3 separate regions of the Homo sapiens genome follow, and regions 1 and 2 are each linked to region 3. The links come from fine-mapping of genetic effects on gene expression. A gene starts in region 3. Each other region holds a variant in brackets. All regions are shown on one strand. Distances are from middle to middle.

Region 1 (8,175 bases), 120 kb after region 3:
CTGGGAAACATAGCGAGACCCCATCTCTATACAATATTTAAAAATTAGCCAAGCGTGGTGGCATGCACCTGTGGTCTCAACTGCTTGGCAGGCTGAGGCAGGAGTTTGAGACTGCAGTGAGCCCTGATTGCACCACTGCACTTCAGCCTGGGTGACCGAGCGAGATCTCATTTCTTTTTTCTTTTTTGTTTTTATTTTTGAGACAGAGTCTTGCTCTGTTGCCCAGACAGGTGGTGTGATCTCAGCTCACTGCAACCTCCGTCTCCCAGGTTCAACTGGTTCTCCTGCCTCAGCCTCCAAGCAGCTGGGATTACAGGTGCCCGCCACCACACCTGACTAATTTTTGTATTTTTAGTAGAGACAGGGTTTTATTACAGGCACACACCTGTAGTCCCAGCTACTCGGGAGGCTTAGGCAGAAGAATCGCTTGAAACCGGGAGGCGGAGGTTGCAGTGAGCTGAGATCGGGCCACTGCACTCCAGCCTGGTGAGACTCCATCTCAAAAAAAAAAAAAAAAAGGGGGGGCCACAGCCAGGTGCAGTGGCTCATGCCTGTAATCCCAGCATTTTTGGGAGGCCAAGGCGGGCAGATCACTTGAGGTTGGGAGTTCGAGACCAGCCTGGCCAACATGGTGAAACCCTGTCTGTACTAAAAATACAAAAATTAGCCAGGCCTGGTGATGGGCACCTGTAGTCCCAGCTACTCGGGAGGCTGAGGCAGGAGAATCACTTCAACCCAGTAGGCGGAGGTTGCAGTGAGCCGAGATCATGCCACTGCACTCCAGCCTGGGCGACAGAGTGAGACTCCATCTCAAAAAAATAATAAATAAATAAATAAATAAAGCCCTGGTTGGTCAGCACACCAGCCTAGGTCTCACTCTGGAGTGGGCTATGCAGACCTCCCAGGCACAGAGATGGTGTCAGGGGCAGTGCAGCTGACCCCACCTGACCCCGTGCCCACCAGGTCTTCCTGAAGGAGACGGAGCGGCAAGCCCTGCAGGAGACGCTGCACCGGGAGGTGGTGCGGAAAATCCTGCTGCTGCAGAGCTGGTTCCGGATGGTGCTGGAGCGTCGGCACTTCCTGCAGATGAAGCGGGCCGCCGTCACCATCCAGGCCTGCTGGCGGTCCTACCGGGTCCGGAGGGCGCTGGAGAGGACGCAGGCTGCCGTGTACCTCCAGGCCTCATGGAGGGGCTACTGGCAGCGGAAGCTCTACCGGCACCAGAAACAGAGCATCATCCGCCTGCAGAGCCTGTGTCGGGGGCACCTGCAGCGCAAGAGGTGAGCAGAGCCGGGCCACGCTCCTCGGAATATTCCAGAAGCCAAAAAGGTCACTCACCAAATTGCTGCCCGTGATATACCATCTGGCCTGTGGCACTAAGGGGATGTCATTCTGGACACAGGGAAAGGCTGGTGGGAAACCAGATGCCTAGGCACTCATGGGCTGCAGAGAAGTGCTCCAAGGCTGGCAGGCAGCACTCAGGGACAAAGCCCTGCTTTGCCATTGGCTGCACCCATTCTCTGCCCAGGGACTCCCCTGTACCTGGATCGGTCAGGGAACACCTGGATTCAGGGTTGGAGGGGCTGCCTGGACCAGCCCAACACTCACATGGAGCTGGGGCATCCACCGGGCACAGAGAAGCCCCCAGGAGGATATCAGCAGCTCCCGTCCCAGCACCCACAGCTCCGAGCCCAGCCCCTCCCCGACCTAGGCACCCTGTTCACCTCTCCCCTGCCCACACAGACCCAGCTCTGCCACAAGTCAGGTCCCAGCTCCCGGAGCAGGCCCTACCCACACATGCAAAAGCCTCCTAGGCCAGGTGCAATGGCTCATGCCTGTAATCCCAACACTTTGGGAGGCCTAGATGGGAAGATCGCTTGAGCACAGGAGTTCAAGACCAGCCTGGCCAATATAGCAAGATGCCATCTCTACACAAAATTAAAGACTTAGCCAGGTGTGGTGGTACACACCTGTAGTCCCAGCTATTCAGGAAGCTGAGGTGGGAGGATCACCTGGGCCTGGGATGTCGAGGCTGCAGTGAGCTATGATCACACCACTGCACTCCAGCCTAAGTGACAGAGCCAGACACTGTCTCTAAAAGCAAAACAGGCTGGGCATAGTGGCTCACACCTGTAAGGCCAGCACTTTGGGAGGCCAAGGCAGGCAGATCACATGAGGCCAGGAGTTGGAGACCAGCCTAGCCAACATGGCAAAACCCCATCTTACGAAAAATACAAAAATTTGCCGGGCTTGGTGGTGCATGTCTATAATCTCAGTTACTAGGGAGGCTGAGACACAAGAATCACTTGAACCCGGGAGGCAGAGGTCGCAGCAAGCCAAGATCGTGCCACTGCATTCCAGCCTGGACAACAGAGCGAGACTCTGTCTCAAAAATAAAATAAAATAAAATAAAATAAAAGCAAAACAAAAAGCCTCCTAGAAAAAGACCCAAGGGAAAGCCCACAGTGGACCCCAAAGGAGTTTGAGGCTTCTTAATAGAACCCACCCACCACAGCCCCAACAAGGGTCCTCTCCCCTAACAAGGCAGCCAGGCAGACGCAGGGCAGGGGTATCTGTGACACTGAGGGGGCACCACCCTCAGCCTCCTTTCCTGATCGAGGAGATTCCTGCTTTCCAGAAGCATCTCTCAGGGCCACTGGGCACAGGCGAAGCCCCGTCTGCAGCCCGCAGGCTGGGGGTCCCATCGGAACTCAGTGGGAGGTGGAGGGAGTGTTTGTTTCTGAACCAGCTGTCTGCTTTTTCCTCACTCCAGCTTCAGCCAGATGATCTCGGAGAAGCAGAAGGCAGAAGAGAAGGAGAGGGAAGCCCTGGAAGCCGCAAGAGCAGGTGCTGAGGAGGGCGGACAGGGTCAGGCGGCTGGAGGGCAGCAGGTAGCTGAGCAGGGGCCGGAGCCAGCGGAGGATGGCGGGCACCTGGCATCGGAGCCTGAGGTGCAGCCAAGTGACAGGTCCCCCCTAGAGCACTCCTCACCTGAGAAGGAGGCCCCAAGCCCAGAGAAGACTCTCCCACCCCAGAAAACCGTGGCGGCTGAAAGTCACGAGAAAGTCCCCAGCAGCCGGGAGAAGCGTGAGTCGCGTCGGCAAAGAGGGCTGGAGCACGTCAAGTTCCAGAACAAACACATCCAGTCCTGCAAGGAGGAGAGTGCCCTCAGAGAACCTTCCAGAAGGG[T/G]CACCCAGGAGCAAGGGGTGAGTCTCCTGGAAGACAAAAAGGAGAGCAGAGAAGATGAAACCCTTCTAGTCGTAGAGACGGAGGCTGAGAACACATCTCAAAAGCAGCCCACAGAGCAACCCCAGGCCATGGCAGTTGGCAAGGTCTCTGAAGAAACTGAGAAGACGCTGCCCAGTGGGAGCCCCAGGCCTGGCCAGTTGGAGCGGCCGACCAGCCTGGCCCTGGACAGCAGGGTCAGCCCACCGGCCCCTGGCAGCGCCCCCGAGACCCCCGAGGACAAGAGCAAACCATGTGGCAGCCCAAGGGTTCAGGAAAAGCCCGACAGCCCCGGAGGCTCCACGCAGATCCAGCGGTACCTGGACGCCGAGCGGCTGGCCAGCGCCGTGGAACTGTGGCGGGGCAAGAAGCTGGTGGCCGCCGCCAGCCCTAGTGCCATGCTCAGCCAGTCCCTGGACCTCAGCGACAGACACCGGGCCACAGGGGCCGCCCTCACGCCCACAGAGTAAGCCCCACACCCTCTTTTGTCTGAGCACCAGGGTCCAGGCCAGGTGGGCAAGGCCAGGGGCAGTGCCACACATCCTGGAAACACATGTGTAATCATGCCCAGTGGGTGTGCGGGAGGCCTGAGGGAGGAGGACGAGCAGGACATGCTAAAGACCAAGTGAAGACAAGGCAGCCAGCCAGGGCCCAGGCTGGGACCTGGAGCCTTGAGGGGTCCCCAGAAGGAGCTGTGCTCACACAGAAAGGCCCCGGCCTTGAGAGAGGTGGCTCCTCAGGTCAAGGTCCCTGCTGCCCAGAAATCTTGGGCCTTGGTTTCTAATTGGTGAACAGGACTAACTGCACTCCTCGGGGTTAAAGGAGCAGGGGCTTGCTCTGCCTGAGCCTTAGTAAGCCAAGTGTCAGTGACTTGGAATCTCCAGCTCCCTCTTCCAGAGGGCCTGCAGGACCAAAGGAAAGAAATCAGGGAGGAGACAGGCCTTCCCTGCAGCAGGCCTGCTCAGCCTCCCACTGCTCGTATTGGGGGCCAGATCATTCTCTGCGGTGGGGGCTGTCCTGTGTATCATAAGATGTTGAGCAGCATCCCTGGCCTCCACTTACCACATGCCAGGAGTATTATCGATAGATGATGGATGGAGGGAGGGAGGGAGAGAGAGAGAGAGGGAAGGATGTGTGGGTGGGTGGGTGGGTGGGTGGATGGATGGAAGATAGAGATGATGGAAGGATGGATGGAAGGAAGATAGAGATGATGGAGGGATGGATGGATGGAAAATGATAGAGGTGATGAATGGAAGACAGATATAGATGATGGATGGATGGAAGATACACATGATGGATGAAGGGATGGATAGATAGAAGACAGGTAGTAATGATGGATAGAGGCATGGATGGATGGATGATACAGATGATGGGGAGATGGATGGATAGAAGATGGGTAGAAATTAGGCTGGGCGCGATGGCTCATGCCTGTAATCCCAGCATTTTGGGAGGCCAAGAGTTTGAGAGGAGTTCGAGACCAGCCTGGCCAACATAGTGAAACCCTGTCTCTACTAAAAATACAAAAATTAGCTGGGCGTGGTGGCGCATGCTTGTAATCCCAGCTACTTGGGAGGCTGAGACAGGAGAATCGCTTGAACCTGGGAGGCAGAGGTTGCAGTGAGCCGAGATCAAGTCACTGCACTCCAGCCTGGATGACAGAGATGAGACTCCGTCTCAAAAAAAAAAAAAAAGTAGAGATTATGGATAGAAGGAAGATAGATGCCGACGATAGATGGATGGAAGGAAGATAGGTAGGTAGAGACAATGAATGGAGGGATGGAAGATAGGTAGAGATGATGGATGGCTGGGTGGGTGGATGGATGGATGGATGGACAGACAGAAGGATGGGTGGATGGCTGGAAGATAGAGATGGAGAGATGGAAGGAACATAGAGTTGATGGATGGAGGGATGGATAGATGATAGGTAGATTATGGATGGGAGGAAGATAGAGATGATGGAGGGACGGATGGGTAGAAGATAGGTAGAGCCGGGTTCGGGGGCTCACACCTATAATCCCAACACTTTGAGAGGCTGAGGCGGGTGGATCACCTGAGGTCAGGAGTTTGAGACCATCCTGGCCAACGTGGCGAAACCCCGTCTCTACTAAAAATACCAAAAATTAGCTGGATGTGTTGGCGCATGCCTCTAATCCCAGCTACTCGGGAGGCTGAGGCAGGAGAATCACTTGAACCTGGGAGGCAGAGGTTGCAGTGAGCCGAGATCACACCATTGCACTCCAGCCTGGGCAACAAGAGCAAAACTCCGTCTAAAAAAAAAAAAAAGATAGATAGAGATGACAGATGAAGAGATGGATGGAAGGCAGATAAAGAGGATGGATGGGTGGAAGATAGAGACAATGAGTCAATGAGTAGAAGGATGGATGGATGGATAGATAGATGATAGATAGATAGATAGATAGATAGATAGATAGATAGATAGATACATAGATAGATAGATGGGCAGGCAGGCAGGGTCTCTTGGGCTAAGGCAAGGTTTCCTACCCTCCACACTCAACATCTGGGGCTGGCTCACTCTCTGGGGTGGAGACCATTCTCTGTAGGGTATTGAGTAGCATCCCTGCCCTCCACTCACCAGAGGCCAGAAGTACCCACCCACTCCTTTCCCCCCACCCAAGTGGTGACAACCAAAACTGTCTCTAGACATTGCCAAGTGTCCCCTGGCAGGGGCAGAACTGCCCAAGTGAGAACCCAAGAACCACTAAGACAAGAAAATGCCACTGACTCACTCTAGTCAGTAAAAGCCATGTTTCTGTGATCTCGCAGGGAGAGGCGCACCTCCTTCTCCACGAGCGACGTCTCCAAGCTCCTCCCGTCCCTGGCCAAGGCTCAGGTAACAACAACACGGCAAAACCCCGTCTCCACTAAAAATACAAAAATCAGCCAGGCGTGGTGGCGCTTGCCTGTAACCCCAGCTACTCAGGAGGCTGAGGCGAGAGAATCGCTTGAACGCAGTGGCAGGGTAGAGGTTGTAGTGAGCCTCGCGAGACCAGGCCACTGCACTCCAGCCTGGGCAACTAGAGTGAGACTCCGTTTCAAAAAAAAAAAAAGCAGGAAGTGAGGTCGGTGGATGGAGTGTAAATGCCTGCAGGGGCTTCCCCATCTAGCACAGGACTGCCAGCCTTTCCTTAGCAGCCCCCCACTGCACCGTCTTGCAGCCTGCAGCAGAAACCACGGACGGAGAGCGAAGTGCGAAAAAGCCAGCTGTCCAGAAGAAGAAGCCAGGCGACGCATCCTCCCTCCCAGACGCAGGGCTGTCCCCGGGCTCTCAGGTCGACTCTAAGTAAGTATTGGGCTTGGGGGAAACTCAGGCCACCAGAGGATGCCCGGGGTCCCTGCCAGGGCCTCGCAGCAGTGTGGCCTCCTAAACCAATCACGTTTACAAAGCACGTTCGCAAAGGCATTTGCTCAGTAGAAACTGAATGGGGAGGCCAGGCAGTGGCTCACGCCTATAATCCCAGCACTTTGGGATGCCGAGACGGGTGGATCACTTGAGGTCAGGAGTTGGAGACCAACCAGGCCAACATGGTGAAACCCCATCTCTACTAAAAATACAAAAATTAGTTGGGCATGATGGCAGGCACCTATAATCCCAGCCACTCGGGAGGCTGAGGCAGGAGAATCGCTTGAACTCGGGAGGTGGAGGTTGCAGTGAGCTGAGATCATGCCACTGCACTCCAGCCTGGGTGACAGAGGGAGACTCCGTCTCAAAAAAAAAAAAAAAAAAAAAAAGCCTCTAGGGCAGGATCCTTCCTGCCTCTTCTGGCTTTTGGGGGCTCCAGGTGTTCCTTGGCTTGTGGCTCCATCACTCTAATCTCTGTCTCTATCGGCACTTGGCCTTCCCCTCAGTGTCTGTGTCTTCTGTCTTCTGTCCCTTAAAAGGACACGTGGCTGAATGGATGCAGTAGGTCACGCCTGTAATCTCAACACTTTGGGAGGCCAAGGTGGGATGATCACTTGAAGCCAGGAGTTCAAGATCAGCCTGGGCAGCGTGGCAAAATCTTGTCTCTGCAAAAAAATTTCAAAAATTAGCCAGGCAGGGCGGTGCATGCCTGTAGTCCCAGCTACTCAGGAGGCTGAAACAGGAGGATCCCTTGAGGCCAAGAGATCAAGCCTGCAGTGAACTGTGATCATACCACTGCACTCCAGCCTGGGCAAGAGAATGACACTCTGTCTCAAAAAAACTTTTTTTTTAACTTAAAAAGATAATGAGCTAGGCGCATGGCTTGTACCTATAATCCCAACAACTCAGGAGGCTGAGGTGAGAGGATCATGCTCGTGAGGCCAGGAGTTTGAGGCTGTAGCGAGCTATGATCACACCACTGCACTCCAGACTGAGTCACACCCCAACTGGAACAAAAAGAAAAGAAAATGGAGTCCCCCTGTGGCTTCTGTTTGGTATCCTTCTTTCTTCACATAACTCCCCTGCCAGTACAAAGAAAGGGCTATTGCTCTTTATAAGATAATCCTGTGTTGTTTTTTTGTTTGTTTTTTTTTTGAGACAGAATCTTGCTCTGTTGCCCAGTCTGGCAGTCTGGAGTGCAATGGCTCAATCTCCGCTCACTGCAGCCTCCACCTCTCAGGCTCAAGCGATTCTCCTGCCTCAGCCTCCCAAGTAGCTGGGAGTACAGGTGTGCACCACCATGCCCAGCTAATTTTTTTTTCTTTTTTTTTCTTTTTTTTTTTTTTTGTATTTTTGGTACAGAAGGGGTTTCGCTATGTTGCCCAGCCTGGTCTCAAACTCCTGGGCTCAGCTGATCCACCCACCTCAGCCTGCCAAAGTGCTGAGATTACATAGGCGTGAGCCACCATACCCAGCCAGATCCATTTTTGTTTTTGTTTTTTGTTTTTTTTTTTGAGACAGAGTCTCACTCTGTCACCCAGGCTGGAGTGCAATGGTGCGATCTCAGCTCACTGCAACCTGCAACCTCC
Region 2 (8,175 bases), 32 kb after region 3:
GGACTGGTTGGTTTGCATATGGAAGGCAAGTCCCAAACCATCTCTAGGAACTGGCTAGAATCAATCTAGGAATTGGGAAGGGCCGTCTCCCTGGGGTCAGCCAGGCCCCAGATGTCAGAGCATCAGAAATACAGAAAATAAGTCACTGGGCGCGGTGGCTCACACCTGTAATCCCAACACTTTGGGAGGCTGAGGCAGGTGGATCACGGGAGGTCAGGACTTTGAGACCAGCCTGGCCAACATGATGAAACCTCGTTTCTACTAAAAATATAAAAATTAGCCAGGCATGATGGTGTGTGCCTGTAATCCCAGCTACTCGGGAGGCTGAGGCAGGAGAATCGCTTGAACCCGGTAGGTGGAGGTTGCAGTGAGCCAAGATCGCTTCACTGCACTCCAGCCTGGGTGACAGAGCGAAACTCCATCTCAAAAAAAAAAAAAAAATAGTCACAGTTAATACACATTTGGCTTCCAGAACATGGCCATTCATTCTCAAGGTGCCTGAAAGAAAAGGCTGGTGTATTCAAACCAGTTTGAGGAGTGCTTCACAACGGGACATTTCTAGGGGGACCAGCAGGGTGGAAGGAAGCCAGCAAGGCGTACGGCAGGCCTGGGGGTTAAGGGGATGGCGAAGCATTGTCGGGGAGGGGGCTGCCTAGTTTCACTGTAGAGGCAGCAGAGAAGGGACCAACCCAGGCTCTTATGCCTCATGCCCTCTGCCCACTGTTCATTGCCCTGATCAGCCAAACCCCACAGGAGCCCTCGATGTGCCACTGTGGGTGAGTCTTGTGGCCACAGGGCTACAGAGGTGACCACACAGCACCCATCATTGCAGGGATTGTAGGACAAGGTGCATCCACATGTCTCAGAACAACGCAACCATCGCCACCTGGTGAGGGCCAGGGGCAGCGTGTGGCCTCAGGGGTCTGCACCTCTGGGTGTGGGATCTGCCTTTTTTTCATTTTTATTTTATTTTTTGTAGAGATGGGGGTCTCACTGTATTCCCCAGGCTGGTCTCGAACTCCTGGATGCCAATGATCCTCCCACCTTGGCCTCCCAAAATGCTGGGATTATAGGCGTGAACCACTGTACCCAGCTCCGCTTAAAAAAAAAACAAAAAAACAGATTGGTTGTTTTAGAGCAGTTTTAGGTTTATAAAAATACCGAGCAGATAGTGCAGAGAGTTCCCATGTACCCCTCCCACGCCCAGGTTCTCACATTATTTATATTTTGCATTCGTGTGGTGTGTTGGTTGCACCTGACTCAACTCTACGTTGGTACTGTTACTAACAGCCATAGTTTCCATTAGGGTTCTTGGTGTTGCACATTCTTTGAGTTTGGACAAAAGTATAATGAATGTGTCTGCCGTTGGAGTGTCACAGAGTGGTGTCACTGCCCTAAAATTCCTCCATGCTCCCCCTGTTCATCCCTCCATGACCTTTGGCAGCCACAGCTCTTCTCACTGCCTCCACAGTTCTGTCTTTTCCAGGCTGTCTGTAGTTGGAGTCCCAGTGTTGCAGGCTTTTCAGACTGGCTTCTTCCACTTCACAACCAGCATTTAAGGTTCCTGCATGTCAGTTGGGCACGGTGGCTTACATAATCCCAGTGCACTGGGAGGCCGAGGCAGGAGGATCACTTGAGCCCAGGAGTTCCAGATCAGCCTGGGCAACATAACAAGACCCTGTCTCTACCAAAAAAAAAAAAAAAAAAAAAAAAAATTAGCCAGGTGTGGTGGTGTTTGCCTGTGGTCCCCCCTACGTGGGAGTCTGAGGCAGGAGAATCGCTTGAGCCCGGGAGGTTGAGGCTGCAGTGAGCCAACGTCTGGCCACTGCACTCCAGCCTAGGTGACAGAGCGAGACCCTGTCCCCCAAAAAAAGGGGAGAGGAGATTCCTCCATGTCTTTTCGTGGCTTGAGAGCTCATTTCTTTTGCTGAATTGTAGCTCATTATATGAATGTGTCAGTTTCTTCACACGTAGGATCCTGAGAGCCCCCTCAGTGGAGAGAGGGAGTTGGGGGCAGGGTCAGACCCCACCCTTTCTGGAGCCTTGACCTCTCGCCTCTTGTTAGTCCCCACAAGCTGAGGGCTGCCATGCAAATTCACTGAAATCACATCTAAGCAGTGCCTAGGAATACATTTCAGTTCCTCTTCCTCTCTGAGGTCATCAGTAAGACATTAATTGGGGTCATACAACTTAGCCCTGGTCCGACATATGTAGCCTATTCCTGTTTTCTCCTGTGCAAGTAACACAGAGATTCATTGTCATTGTTTACATCAGCTTTTAATAAAACTGCTGAGCAATTTCACCATAGAATGTCCATTTTCTTTCCTTTCCCATCCCCTCCCCTCCCCTCCTCTCCCCTCCCCTCTCCTCGCCTCTCCTCTATTCCTTTCTTGTCAGGGTCTCTCTCCGTTACCTAGAATGGAGTGCAGTGGCACAATCATAACTCACCGCAGCCTCGAGAACTTCTGGGCTCAAGCGATCCTCCCACCCAAGTAGCTGGAATTCCAGGTGTGCACCACCATGCCCGGCTAATTTTTAAATTTTCTGTAGAGACACAGTCTTACTATGTTCTCCAGGCTGGTCTCGAACTCCTGGCTTCCAGTGATCCTCCCACCTCAGCTGTTTTTAATATGGCTTGTCTTGTGTGCATTACATTATATACCCAGACCGCCCGTTCATTGCTGTGTGAGCATTTGCTGTGTGGCAGGCTATGATATAGGTGCTGGGCTATGTGGTGGCCAAAGTCAACACAAAATTCTCCCCAGGTAGAACTCGGGGAAGACTCTGGGTGACACAGGAGCTATAGAGGTTCTGAGCAGAGGTAGATGCAACCCAGCTCTGGTCTCCCGAGGCCGCCCTGGCGTCATCCCAGCTCTGAGACTCAGCCACAGTGAAACTGCCAGTGGCCCCAGTGTCCTCCCAGCAGGTGGCCAGGGGGCTCAACGGCTCTCCAGGCCAAAACATCAGTGCCTGGCATCCACACCCGAGATAAAACAGTGATCTTGAAAATTCAGCATGTGTGGCACACACCTGTAATCCCAGAGTCAGGAGGCTGAGTCCTGAGTCAGGAGGATTGCGTGAGCCTAGGAATTCCAGACCAGCCTGGGTAACATTGCAAGACCCCATCTCTACCAAAAAGTTTAAAAACTAGGCTGGGTGCAGTGGCTCATGCCTGTAATCCCAACACTTTGGGAGGCCAAGGCAGGTGGATCACCTGAGGTCAAGAGTTCGAGACCAGCCTGGCAAACATGGTGAAACCCCGTCTCTACTAAAAATACAAAAATTAGCCAGGTGTGGTGGCGAGCGCCTATAATCCCAGGTACTTCGGAGGCTGAGGCAGGAGAATGGCTTGAACTTGGGAGGTGGAGGTTGCAGTGAGCCAATATCGCACCATTGCACTCCAGCCTGGGCAACAAGAGCGAA[A/AC]TCTGTCTCAAAATTAAAAATAAAAATAAAAAATTAGCCAGGCATGGCAGTGCATGCCTGTGGTCTCAGCTCTCAGGAGCTTGAAGTGGGAGGATTGCTTGAGCCCAGAAGTTCAAGACTGCAGTGAGCTGTGATCACACACTGCACTCCAGCCTGGGTGACAGAGCAAGACCCTGTCTCAAAAAAATAACAAAAAAAATTTAGTAGGTGAATGAATGAGAGGGTAGATCCAACATTTACCATGTCAGACATTTTGCCAAATGGGACTAGGCAGGTGGGTAAATGCCTGAGCCCCGCAGAAATGACACGCCCAGCCCCAGGGTCTCAAAGTGGCACGGCCAGGAGGCAGGATTGCCACCTAGGTCTCAGTTCAGGGTCCATGTCCTCCCCACCACGTTGCTGCCTCCACAGCGCCATCTCACTAGGACCCTCCAGGGCGTGGACAAGTTTCCTGTTGCTAAGTGTTAGGGGCAAGGGAGTCTCCAACAACAGGGATTAAGGCTCTCATGGTCCTGGAGGCCAGAAGTCTGAAATCAAGGTGTCCACGGGGCCGCACTCCCTCCCGGCTCTGGGGGAGGATGCTTCAGGCCTCTTCAGCTTCTCTGGTGGCTGCAGATGTGCCCTGGCCTGTGGCCACGTCACATCAGTCTCTGCCTCTGTCGTCAGGGGCGTTCTTCCTGTGTGTCCATGTCTTCACGTGGCTTTCTTATAACAAGGACACCACTCATGGGATGTAGGGCCCATCCTACCCCGGCATGACCTCATCCTACCTAATTGCATTTGCAAAGACCCTATTTCCAAATAAGGTCACATACACAGTTTCTGGGGGTGAGGATGTGGATATAATTTTGGGGGCGGGGGGCTCAAGTCAGCCCACAGCATCCCCCATACAGCCCCACCTGGTCTGCTTCAAGTCCTACCTGGCCCCTGGCAAGTCCCACTTGGTGACATCTTGTGCCTGGGTCCTTGAGGGCTGCCCCAGATCCGCGATTGTCCTGGGGACCGGTAGTTCCTCCCCGGATGCCAGCAAAGCTCCCTCCAGCCTCCACGCCTGCACAGTCTCCAGTATGCCTTCAACAGCCATTAGTCACCCTCTGTGAGTCAGACCCCCGGTCCTGCCAGGCCAACCTGCTTGGGGCCTCAGCAGCGGGGGCTGGCGAGGCCAGTTTTCTCCAGCGGTTCTAAGCCGCTCGAGGGTGGTGCCCACGCCGGCTTCCAAAACAGGCTTGAGCCAAATCCACGTCATGGCAATAAACGTGCTTCCTGGGGCGACTGTTTGCAAAGGGATGTGATTGTCTTCACTGAGAGCTGGATTTCTCAACCTGGCTCTGCTGACATTCAGGGCCGGATCGTTCTCTGGGGAGGGAGTCATCCTGTGCATTGAAGGACATTGAGCAGCATCCCTGGCCTCCACCCACCAGATGCCAGGAGCACTCCCCACCCCGCAGGTGTGACACCCAGAAGTGTCCCCAGACATTTCATTGATTAGAGAGGTATTAACAAAATAGCTTCCCGTTGTCCCCTGGGGACAAATCACCCCCTGGGAATAGAACAGCTGTCTTTGAGTTCTTCCCATAAGACCCAATCACTGTTCATTGCAGCCACTGAGCTTTTAGAAATTATCTGTGAGTTCTTTCTGTTCTGTGCTAACTTAAGAGTCATTTTCTTTTTTTCTTTTTTTGAGATAGAGTCTTGCTCTATCGCCCAGGCTGGAGTGCAGTGGCACGATCTCGGCTCACTGGAACCTCTGCCTCCTGGGTTTGATTCTCCTGCCTCAGCCCTCCCGAGTAGCTGGGACTACAGGCGCCCACCACCGTGCCCGGCTAATGTTTGTATTTTTAGTAGAGACGGGTTTCACCATAGTGGCCAGGCTGGTCTCAAACTCCTGACCTCAAGTAATCTGCCCTCCTCAGCCTCCCAAAGTGCTGGGATTATAGGCGTGAGCCACCATGCCTGGCCCCAAGAATCTTTTTTTTAATTTTATTTATTTATTTATTTATTTATTTATTTATTTATTTATTTATTTATTTTGAAACAGAGTTTCTCTCTGTCTCCGGGCTGGAGTGCAGTGGCGCGATCTCGGCTCACTGCAAGTTCTGCCTCCCGGGTTCGTGCCATTCTCCTGCCTCAGCCTCCTGAGTAGCTGGGACTACAGGTGCTCACCACCACACCCAGCTAATTTTTTGTATTTTTAGTAGAGATGGGGTTTCACCGTGTTAGCCAGAATGGTCTCGATCTCCTGACCTCGTGGTCCGCCCACCTCAGCCTCCCAAAGTGCTGGGATTACAAGCATGAGCCACTGCGCCCGGCCATCATTTTCTAATAAGAGGAATAAGACCTCAGGCCCACTGGGTATCAGGGTTTGGGCTTCGTGATTTTCCTCCATCATCTCTAATCCCTCACGGCAGCTCTGCCCATTTTAAAGATGAGGAAACTGAGCCCCAGAGAGACACGTGGATGTGTGAGTTTCCTGAGGTGTCTATAACAAAGTATTACGGGCTGGGAGCCCTCAAACAGCAGGGGTTGATTCTCTCACAGTTCTGGAGGCCAGAAGTTGAAAATCAAGGTGTGGGCAGGGCTGGGTCCCTCTGGAGGCTCTGAGGGAGAATCTGTCCCAGGCCTCTCTCCCGGGTTCTGGTGGCTTCAGCCATCCTTGGAGCTCTGGGCTTGTGGCCGCATCACTCTGCCCTCTCCCTCCGTCGTCACCTGGTCTTCTCCCCTGTGTGTGTCCAATCTCCCTTGCCTTTCTCTCATGGGATCACCTCATCTCAAAATACTTACCTTCATGACATCTGCCAAGACCCCGTTTCCAGATAAAGCCACAGTCACAGGTTCTGGGGGTAAGGACTTAGACATGTCTTTTTTGGGAAGCCACAAGTCAACCCACTGCAGGTAGATTCCCCAGGCCACACCGCAGAGAGCCAAAGCCTAACCCGGGGTTTGAACCCGGCCTGAGCCCCAGCCCCCCGTTCAGGCTGCCTCTCTGCTCTCCCCTCTCTCGCCCGGGCTGCAGAAAGCCGGAGATCAGCACAACTCGCTGCATCGATTGGGGATTTTTTCTCAGCTCCCCGAAAGGAGAAGTTGAGCTGTTTTGAGGTTTGAGTGTCGCTGGATGCACCCCCTGACCCCCGCCCCCCGCGAGGGTTGCAGCCTCGCTGTGTAATGCTGACCAAAAAACAGGAAGGGAGCACTGTGGAAAGCCGGTTCCAATCAGCTGATCTGCCCGCCACTGCAGTTAACTGTTGCCATCACCTTTCACCAAGTCTAGGGGCTGCAGAAGCCATGAGTCTCCCCATCTTCCACATGGCCTCTAGCCTCCCAGTGCAGGCGCCCGTCGACAGCCCAGGGGCTGTGGATAGAGCACCTTACAGCATCGGCCATGGGGTCTCGCCGCAAAGCACACCCAGAACACGCTCCTCTCCCTTTGCCCACAGCCTCAGATCCACCAGGCACTCGCCTCGGTGCCCTTCTGAGAGCAGGCTGAGTCCAGGGGGCCAAAGGCTGGGGTTCCCTTCATCTGTCCTGAACTGTAGCAAGTGCAGCTGGCAGCTGGCAGCGTGCATGGGGTTTTCATTCTGAAAGCAGAAATAAAATAAGGATCCTTGCTTGTCAGGCTGTTGTCCCAAGGGTCCCTGGACTCCATGGAGCCCCTGTGGCCCGGCCCACAGTGGGACACGGTGACAGTGATGGGCTGCAGGGCGCAGAGGGACGCCCCCAGCTGGTGGAGCCAAGCTCACCCGAAGTTGTGCCGATGCCCAGGACATTCCAGTGAGGGACTGAGGAAGGGTCCTGAACGTGCCACTGCCCCAGACCCCCCTCTTGGGGCAAAGGAACCTAGGACTCGTACCCACCTGGACCGGGTCCTGAGCTCCTCCTTAGGGGCCCTACAAACCCAGTCTCATGTTTCCCCCAACTCCCCCAGCCCCTCTGCCATCAGCCAGGCCACTAGCTCTGTTCCCCCACCCACAGTCAGCACTGGGGTAGGTCACCTAGACCACAGTGCCATTATCCACTTCGACCTCTGCCCTCAAGGACACCTGCCTGGGCCACGTCCTTTCCCCCTGAGTCTGTCGGGCAAGACACAGTTGGATGCCAGCCTCCACCCAGCATTGGGGGCGTCATCTCATACGTCCTCACCACATCCTGATGTGGGCAGACTGACCACCCCCACCTGACATGTGAGGAAACTGAGGCACACGAGCTGCTCAGCAAGGGTGGCAGAGATAGAAGTTTCTGGAACCAGGTGTGTGTCAACTCTCATGCCTCTGAAGTTGAGGTTCCTGTTTAAGAGCTTATGGAGATATAATTTACCTATTTACTTATTTATAAATAGATACCTTATATTTATATCTACAGTTTATAAATATATAGATTAAATTGTATCTGCATTTTATAAATGTATAAATTATATCTGCAGTTTATAAATCTGTAAATTAAATTATATCTGCAGCCTCAAATTCCTGGCCTCAAGTGATCCTCCCACCTCAGCCTCTCAAGCAGCTGAGAATACAGGTGCACACCACCACCCCTGGCTAATTTTTTTATTTTTTGTAGAGACAGGGTTTTGTTATGTCACCAAGGCTGGTCTCCAACTCCTGGCCTCAGGCAAAAGTGTGCAATTCAGTGGCATTTAGTACACTCGCAGTGGTATGCAACCGTCGCCTCTATGCAGTTCCAGAACATTTCCATCCCCCTGAAAGGAGACCCCGTCCCCATCAGCATTCACTCCCCACTTCCCTCTCCCAGGCCCTG
Region 3 (8,165 bases):
CAGCCAAGTGAGATTGTGACTTTGACCATATCTTTGTTCCAGTTGATTCTTCTGTTGGGGACTGGGGTTGCAGCTGCTACCCTGAGAGGAAAGGAGGTACCCTCAGAGTTAACAAGGATCCTTCAGTCAGCCAAAGGGCCGGGCTGTCAATCTGGGCAGCCCCAGGGTAGGAATGCACCATGCCTGCAGAGCGAGTGTGGGTGCAGGTGGGTGCCCGGCAGATGTGGACAATCGGAAGGCCACTCTCATGGTGCAGGTCTCCAAGGGCTGAGGCCAGGACCAGGTGGGGTCCCAGGGACAACCAGGCCACAAAAAGAGTCTACCCTGGATGGTGATCGAACAGCTGAGAGAAAGGACATCCCCAGCTCCCAGCAGAAAGACCATCCAGCCCGGGTCTTTCTAGTAGCATCAGGAAACAGTTTTGCTCAACAAGGAGGATCTCAGGCTTGGGCTGCCTTGGACGGTGGGGAAACAAAAGCACTTTCAAGTTTCCTGAAAACTAGGATACAACTGTTTATTTTAAACAGCCTGGCTAGGTGCGGTGGCTCACACCTGTAATCCCAGCACTTTGGGAGGCCGAGGTGGACGGATCACTTGAGGTCAGAAGTTTGAGACCAGCCTGGCCAACATGGTGAAACCCTGTCTCTACTAAAAATACAAAAATGAGCCAGGATGGTGGCAGCTCCCAGCTACTTGGGAGGCTGAGGCAGAGAATCGCTTGAACCTGGGAGGCGGGAGCTACAGTGAGCCGAGATCACGCCACTGCATTCCAGCCTGGGTGACAGAGCGAGACTCCATCTCAAAAAAATAAATACAAATAAATAAACAGGCTGAATTTTCCACAGAAGCAATATTATGAAGAAGGATACAATTCTTGTCCAAGAACGAGGTAGCTCATAAATATTATAGCTGTTATATGCGAGATTAACATGCGATGTTTAGAATTTGGGAATAAGTGGTCAGGAAATAAAAAGACAACTTACCCAGCAATGCTGAAACATACAAACCTTGCCTCACTTGGAAATAAAATCCTGCTCTAAGCTCGCTGAATTGGGCCCTGCGACACTGCACACACTGAGAAAATACCTCATTGTATCATAGTCTTGGCCTCCAATGATGGACTCTAGAATCTACCATGCAAGCCGAGCATTTCCTTTTTTTTTTTTTTTTTTTTTTTGAGATGGAGTTTCGCTCGCCACCCAGGTTGGAGTACAGTGGCGCGATCTCGGCTCACAGCAACCTCCACTTCCCAGGTTCAAGCCATTCTCCAGCCTCAGCCTCCTGAGTAGCTGGGATTACAGGCACCTACCACCATGGCCGGCTAATTTTTGTATTTTTAGTAGAACGAGGTTTCACCATGTTGGTCAGGCAGGTCTTGAACTCTTGACCTCATGATCCACCCACCTTGGCGCCTCAAACTGCTGGGATTACAGGCGTGAGCCACCGTGTCCAGCCACATTTCCTTTTTTTTTGTTTTGTTTTGAGACAGAGTCTCACTCTGTCGCCCAGGCTGGAGTGCAGTGGTGCGATCTTGGCTCGTGGGGGAGGCCGTTAACGGTGATCCCAGACCGATAGGTGGAAATCAGATGTACAGGCACCCCTCATGAGACTGACACGCTCACGCAGTGGGAATTGAGAGTTTGATTTTAGGCCGGGGGCAGTGGTTAATGCCTGTAATCCCAACACTTTGGGAGGCAGAGGCGGGAGGATCACTTGAGGTTAGGAGTTCGAGACCAGCCTGGGTAACATAGTGAGACCCCAACTCAAAAAAAAAAAAAAAAAAAGGCAGAGTTTGATTTTTGATAATGATCTCCATGGTCTCCACACCCACGCTTCCAGGGGACATGTCCCGGACACAGCCCATGACCCCCATGGCTGCCAAGGGAAGCCACTGCTCAAAATGACCACCACCATTCCTGACACAGCCCTCGCCACAGGGCTGGGATGGCCAGACCCAGAATCCCCACAGGTGTGACTACAAGGAAGTAAAGCCACAGGCCCCCTTCTCTGGCCTGTTTTTTTCTTCCTCCAAAAGCACGTAATGAAAGAAGAAAACCATGTTCCTTAAAGAGATCCTGACACTGCTTACCTTGAACTCTTTTATCCTTCTTCTTGGCACTGCTAGAATTTGTGGGGCCGGTTGCAGGCTTCCTGCAAGAGAAGAGAGAGAGGTCTTGTTCACCTCACTACCCAAGAAGCACAGGGAAGCCGGCGAGGTGCCTCTGCTAGTTGAAGCTCAGACAGCCCAGTCCAAGGGCTGCCAGAGGACAATTTCAGTGAGGGTGGGCCACCTCAACAGGAAAAGGGACACAAGGAGCAGCCAGCCCTGGTCACCTGGGCAAGAAGGCATAGGTGAACACCCAAACTGAGAAGAGAGGAGGGTAATGAGAGCTCTGTGGAAGAGATCACAGCAGATCTCAAATTATCCCTGGGTTCATTCATTCACCAGACATTGATGCACCTACTATATTCCAGTAGAGACACAGTGGTAACAAAACACAGAGCTCCTTCCCAGAAAGGGAAGAACAACATCTTGACAGGCAGGTACGAGGAGTGGTCCCAGCAGGTACCTCACTTTGGGAGGCTGAGGCTGGCGGATCACGAGGTCAGGAGATCGAGACCATCCTGGCTAACATGGTGAAACCCCATCTCTACTAAAAATACAAAAATGAGCTGGGGTGGTGGCATGCGCCTGTAGTCCCTCCTACTCAGGAGACTGACACAGGAGAACTGCTTGAACCCGGGAGGCACAGGTTGCAGTGAGCCAAGATCACGCCATTGCACTCCAGCCAGGGTGACAGTGAGACTCCGTCTCAATAAATAAATAAATAAAAATAAAAATAAAAATAAAAATAGAATGAAGCCTGATGTAATAGGAAAGAAGGGACCCTGAGATAGGAATCGCTGACTCATCAGCTGTGGGGGTGCAGGAGAGGGAGAATCTGGGATGACTAGGGGTTTCAGGGTTTCAGCCTGAGCTGGTGAGAAAAGAAGGGATCCAAGAACAGACACCAGCAACACAGGAGGGGCAAGTGGATGGGCAAGTGGAGGGGCAGGGCCAAGGCCAGGGCACTGTAACTCCTGCTCCCATCACCAAAGGCGGCTCCACTGGTCCCTGCGGCCACCTCCTCTGAAGCAGGCTCCCAGGACCCCAAAGTGAGACCCAGACAATGTTGGGGACACTTCCAGGCCACCGTGGGGAGAGGCAACTTAGCAAATGTTCGCCAGGTGCCAGCAGCTGCGCTCGCCCGTAGGCTCCTCCTAACCCGACAGCTTCCTAACTGTTCACACCTGCTTTTTCGTCGCTGCAAAACAAAGACGCACAGGTTTTACATAGGTCACCCCCGGGGCAGTCTCACAGCCAGAAAGAGACAAGAGCACAGACTCCCTCTGGGGACTGTGCTAGGGCTGTGGCCTCAAACCGAATGGGCTCCTGGGTGAACCTGCTGCGACCTGAGGGGGGTCCCTACAACCTGTGCGAGCCTCAGCTACTGCACCTGTACCTGGGAGGTGCTACTGTCAATCTATCGGTTACGGCAAGGGGCGGTGGAGTGATTCCTCTTGCTGGCCAATTTCACTTCAGTTTGCACCTGGCACAATCAACACTGGCAGAATTAACAAAACTAGACAAATATAGCCTCATGATCATTCATGCCTAGCTCTCGGTCAGTATTCAACTTCTTTCTTGTTCATGGTGTGTTACCCTAGGCAAGTCACTTCCCCTCCCTGGGTCTCCATCATCTCCTCAGTAAACTGGGAGCACAGAATAAAGCGCGTGGGAGGATTAAAGGGGACACTTTGGTCGCCCAACACTTGTTCACTGCATAACGATAATTCCAAGAGCGACATCACAGTAAAGACCCAGGCGCCGATCTAAGCGCGTTTCAGCCTCACGCGACGCCTACGAGGTTGAGCTGCGTCATCGGCCCCATTTCGTAGCGGAGGAAAGCGAGGCACTGGGCGGTCAGGCCGCTTGCCGGAGGTCGCCCAGCGTCCCAGCCGAGGACGCGGAACTCAGGGCCGGTCGGGTGTCAGCGCTCCGGAGCATGCGCAGAGGCAGCACGCCATCGGGGTCTTCAGGGGCCCGCGCAGTTCCTGGCGGGGTCGAACCCGAACTCACCCCGAGGGTCCTAACTCCCCACCTCCGCTGCCCATCCTCTCCAGCCCTATGGCGTCTACAAATCCAGACCTGCGGAAGCCCCAACTCACCCAGCGCCTCGCCCCGAGGAATCCGCCATTTTCCCGCCTTCCACCTCAAGGCCCGACCCGCCGGCTTTTCAAAGCCGGACCCGCCCCCTTGCTTGCGGGTCGGACCATTTGTGGAGACGCAGGAGGGGTGGCTGCGAGGCGTGAGGCAGCGCCGGCTAAGTGTGGAGAGCGCGGCCCCAGACGCGCGCTTCGCCTGTCCTCCCCTCGCACTTGGTCTCGCCCACCATCGGCGGTAGTGGGTAGGGGCGGTGGGTGGGACCTGATCTGTCGGACAGTAGGGGCGGGGCTTTTCGCGATGCCCCGCCCCTAGGAGCGCTGGCGTCACGCCCCCGTCCCCGCCTCTCCGGAACCCGGAAGCGGGAGCGCGCGGGGGAGCGGCGGGCGCGGCGGGGCGGAGCGGCTCGAGCAGCGGCGGGCTGGCAGGCGGTCGTCCGGCCGGGGACCCGGCCCGGGACCGGCGGCGCGCGGCGGCCGAGGCCAGGTGAGTACCAGGCAGCCTCGGGTTGGCGACTCGAGCTCGAAGCCTGCCTTTGGGGGCTGCGCAGAAGAGGGACGGAGCTGAGGGCTGATGGGGGACGCGACGGCAGGGGTCGAGGGGGCGGGAACGAGCCTGGGGGTCTTGGAGAGATTGCTGGGGATGAGGTGGAAGCGAGACGGTGAAGGAGAAAGTGGATGGGGATGGAGCTGGTGAGGGAGTTCGAGGGCGTGGGGGGGGTGAGTCTTGTGGCTTTGAGCAGCTTCTCTGAAGAGGACGTGGCTTAAGTGGTAATTGGGGGGTCGCAGGAAACGGCGTTGTGGGGAGGCACGGAGGCGGGAACGAGAGGCCCAGGCTGGGGGAGTGGGCAAGGCCAGGGGCGGGACAGCCGGGGTGCGGTTGAGGGGAAGGGGTGCGAGACCGATCTGGGGACGTCTGCCCGCGCGATTGAAGGAAGGGTGTCTGAGAAGAGGGCGGCGCCTGGCCCCCAGTGGGCGCTCAGTAAATGCGGGGGGTTCTGAACTAACTGATGCGGCAGCCGGCTATTGGGAAGCGGGGAAATGGGAGCTGGAAGGGAAGTAAACGGAGTAGAAGTCACGGTAAGAACTGAGGGTAGGCTTAGGGAGGGAGGGCCCGGAGAGGAGGGAAGAGAAGGAAGGGGTTAGAGTGGCCCCGTGCAGATAGATGTTGAGATGCAGCCCCTGGAGATTCCGTCCCCCCACCCTCCCCTCTTGATTCGTGTCCCTCCTGACTTCACACTTAACAGCTGGGTGACCTGGGACGAGTCCCAACACCCTCTGTGCCAGTGTCCTCGTCTTGGAAACTTCACCACCCTCCCCTTAAGACAGGACTAGCAGGATTCTGGGATTCCCTGGATCCAAGGAAGGGACCTCAGGGCCGGTTGTGGGGCCGGAACTGTGTTTCAGGAGGGAGTGTGCATGCACCCTCATGTACAGGACTGTCGCCACCTCCGCAGAGCTGCATCCTTGGACTTAAATGGGTAAAACGACATACAGGAAATCTGTCCCCCGGTTGCTCTGAGCTCAGCCCTGGAGAGGCACGACAGCCACGAGCCCTCCTTTCTTTCCTGGGCACCCTGGAGGCCAGGGGTCTTTAAGGGATGGCTTCTCTGCCTCTTTGTCTGAGGTGGGAGCCCGTGGGGACACTTTCCAGCCAGAGAGTCCCAACTCGGTTTGTTTTTTGATGTTGGAGTCTTCAGAATCTTAAGGTGTCCAGGAGCAGCCGGAGGTGACCTGGGCTACAGGAAAGTTATTCACATCTGACAGGCCTGGCTCTTGTGGCCCTGGCAGGGACTTTGTGCAGGGTGCTTTTGATTGGCATTCATTTCTCCCCTTTCCCAACTGTAGGGATCTTTATCTGGGATCTGCCAGAAGGGCTGGGGAACCCCAGCTTATGTTTAGTTTATAGCTCATTCAGGAGATGAACCCGGATAGCTGGAATATAAAGAGGGCCACAGAAAGATAAGCACCCCCTTCACTTCCAGAATATCCTGGCCTTTAGGAAAGGTGGCTTTGGCCTGGCTTGCCCCAGGACATGCAGTGACAGCCCACAGTCATGCCTCCTGCAAACATTGAACTGTAGGCTTGCACTGGCCTACAGAACAGGACCGGGATCTTCTGATCCCGCAGCCCTGCAATCGCCTCTTCCCTGCCGCTAGAGAATGGCCAAGCAGGGTCTTGTGGGGGGAGCACTGTGTTGGAGATCCTGGCTTTGGTCAAGTCTCTGTGCCTGTTTCTGACCTCTCACCTGCAAAATGAATGAATTGACCTCCATCAGCGTTTTTCAACCTTGAAACCCAACTCTTCTCATCACCGTCTTGTCTCCAGTCCATGTCCCCCAGCTCCCGGCCTTGAACTCCTCACAGCACCCCCACTCTCCATTCCTGGCTGCGATGATCCTACTTTTATTCCGTTTTCCATTCGACAGTTTGTATCCAAAAATGATTTTTTTTCAACCGCTTCTTCATCGTCCAAATAGAAAATTGCGGTGTTGAAGGTGCTTTTGCACATTGCACCTATTCCCAAAGCTTTGGAAACTGCAAATTTCTGGAAATCCCGAGGCAGTACCGTCCCTCGGGTCCAGTCTGGTGACTCAGTGGAGCAGGTAGAGACGTGGGAATCTCCCCTTTCTGTTTGGCTGTAGGATTCGTTATTCTCTCCCCACATGGACTTGTTAACTTGCTGCTTCCCATTCCTCATCTCTTCCAAATGGTGTGTCTTGGGTGGGCCTAGATTTCAGTTAGGCAAGGGTTGATTGTGCCAGACACTTGGTAGATTCCTGGGGACAGAGGTGAATCCTTATGACCCAGAGGACGGACACGCTAATGCCCGCCCCCGACAACTTTGCACTTCCTCTTCAGAAAGAATGGAGTTCAAGCTGGGCCGCGGTGGCTCAGGCCTGTAATCCCTTTGGGAGGCCAAGGTGGGTGGATCACAAGGTCAGGAGTTCAAGACCAGCCTGACCAATATGGAGAAACCCTGTCTCCACTAAAAATACAAAAATTAGCCCGGCGTGGTGATGTGCGCCTGTAGTCCCAGCTACTCTGGAGGCTGAGACAGGAGAATTGCTTGAACCCAGGAGGCGGAGTTTGCAGCCAGCCAAGATTGCGCCATTGCACTCCAGTCTGGGTGACAGAGCAAGATGCCCTCAAAAATAATAATAATTAAAAAAAAGAATGGAATTCAGATCAGGTCATCAGTACGGTGACAGAGGGGCCACAAGATATTATGGGGGGAGAATTAGGGACAACCAATGCAAGCTTTAGGACAAGGGGGATTCCAGCAAGTTTCCTCGGAAGTAGTGGCTGGCCCCAGGTCAAACCTGGAAAGATACCACGTGTTAAACCACTCCGGGTGGAAGGGATTGCACAAGCAGATACCTTTGAAGCCCGGCCTGTACAGGGCATCCCAGCTCTCTCATTCTGCCAACCGGCAGTGCGAGGGTCCTTGTTCTTATCTTCCTGATACAGAAACAGGCCCAGGCAGGTGATGACTTCAGAGATGGTTCCTTGAGCTTTCTAGAAACATGCAGGATCCTTAGTAACCTTTAACTGGGGAAACCCAAATCTCCAGGGCCGTTTCTCACCCGCATCACCATTGACAGTTGGGGCTGTGCACTGTAGAATGTGGAATAGTGTCCCTGGCTGTCACCCATGAGATGCCAGTAGTATTCCATCCCCTCCAAGGGGTAACAACTGAAAATGACTCCAGCCATGGCCACGTGTCCCCTGGGGGCAGAATCACCTCCCCCGCCAGGTGAAATGTGATGCTCATTAGTAAAACCTGGTTCCCCTCTAGGGCCCATCATTGCCTTGGTGGGTCCTTGGTGTTTGTGGAGCCCCTGAGGAACTGCCACTAAGAGTGGGAACAGGGGCAGAGACCAGGAACTGAATCCTGCCATCCAGTCAGTTCTTAATCAGGAGGGAGCGGGTCTTGATAAAAAGGAGGAACCGTTAGGAACG

Evidence for each region. PIP is the estimated chance that this variant, and not a neighbour inherited with it, causes the effect. A credible set is the group of variants that fine-mapping cannot tell apart.
Region 1: its variant is the best candidate, but not a certain one, in a credible set for the expression of MYO9B in whole blood (INTERVAL, PIP 0.58).
Region 2: its variant is the best candidate, but not a certain one, in a credible set for the expression of MYO9B in lymphoblastoid cells (GTEx, PIP 0.55).

What each region holds. Positions count from the first base shown.
Region 1 is chr19:17,191,783-17,199,957 of GRCh38, forward strand. It overlaps MYO9B (myosin IXB), which reads left to right. Exons shown (of 40, transcript NM_004145.4): 21 at 964-1,280; 22 at 2,774-3,691; 23 at 6,010-6,076; 24 at 6,402-6,526. Among named protein-coding and RNA genes, the nearest start is that of USE1, 19 kb to the right of the region's middle. The variant T/G (reference allele first, on the strand shown) is at 3,190.
Region 2 is chr19:17,103,631-17,111,805 of GRCh38, forward strand. The region is part of intron 2 of MYO9B (myosin IXB); the gene reads left to right. Among named protein-coding and RNA genes, the nearest start is that of SNORA118, 15 kb to the left of the region's middle. RefSeq lists enhancers at 509-558, 4,620-4,669, 6,702-6,811, 6,775-7,276. The variant A/AC (reference allele first, on the strand shown) is at 3,424.
Region 3 is chr19:17,071,185-17,079,349 of GRCh38, forward strand. MYO9B (myosin IXB) reads left to right here and starts at 4,593. Exons shown (of 40, transcript NM_004145.4): 1 at 4,593-4,690. HAUS8 (HAUS augmin like complex subunit 8) reads right to left here and starts at 4,268. Exons shown (of 11, transcript NM_033417.2): 1 at 4,210-4,268; 2 at 2,090-2,151. The coding sequence starts at 4,238. RefSeq lists an enhancer at 4,011-4,210 and silencers at 4,391-4,740, 4,735-5,029.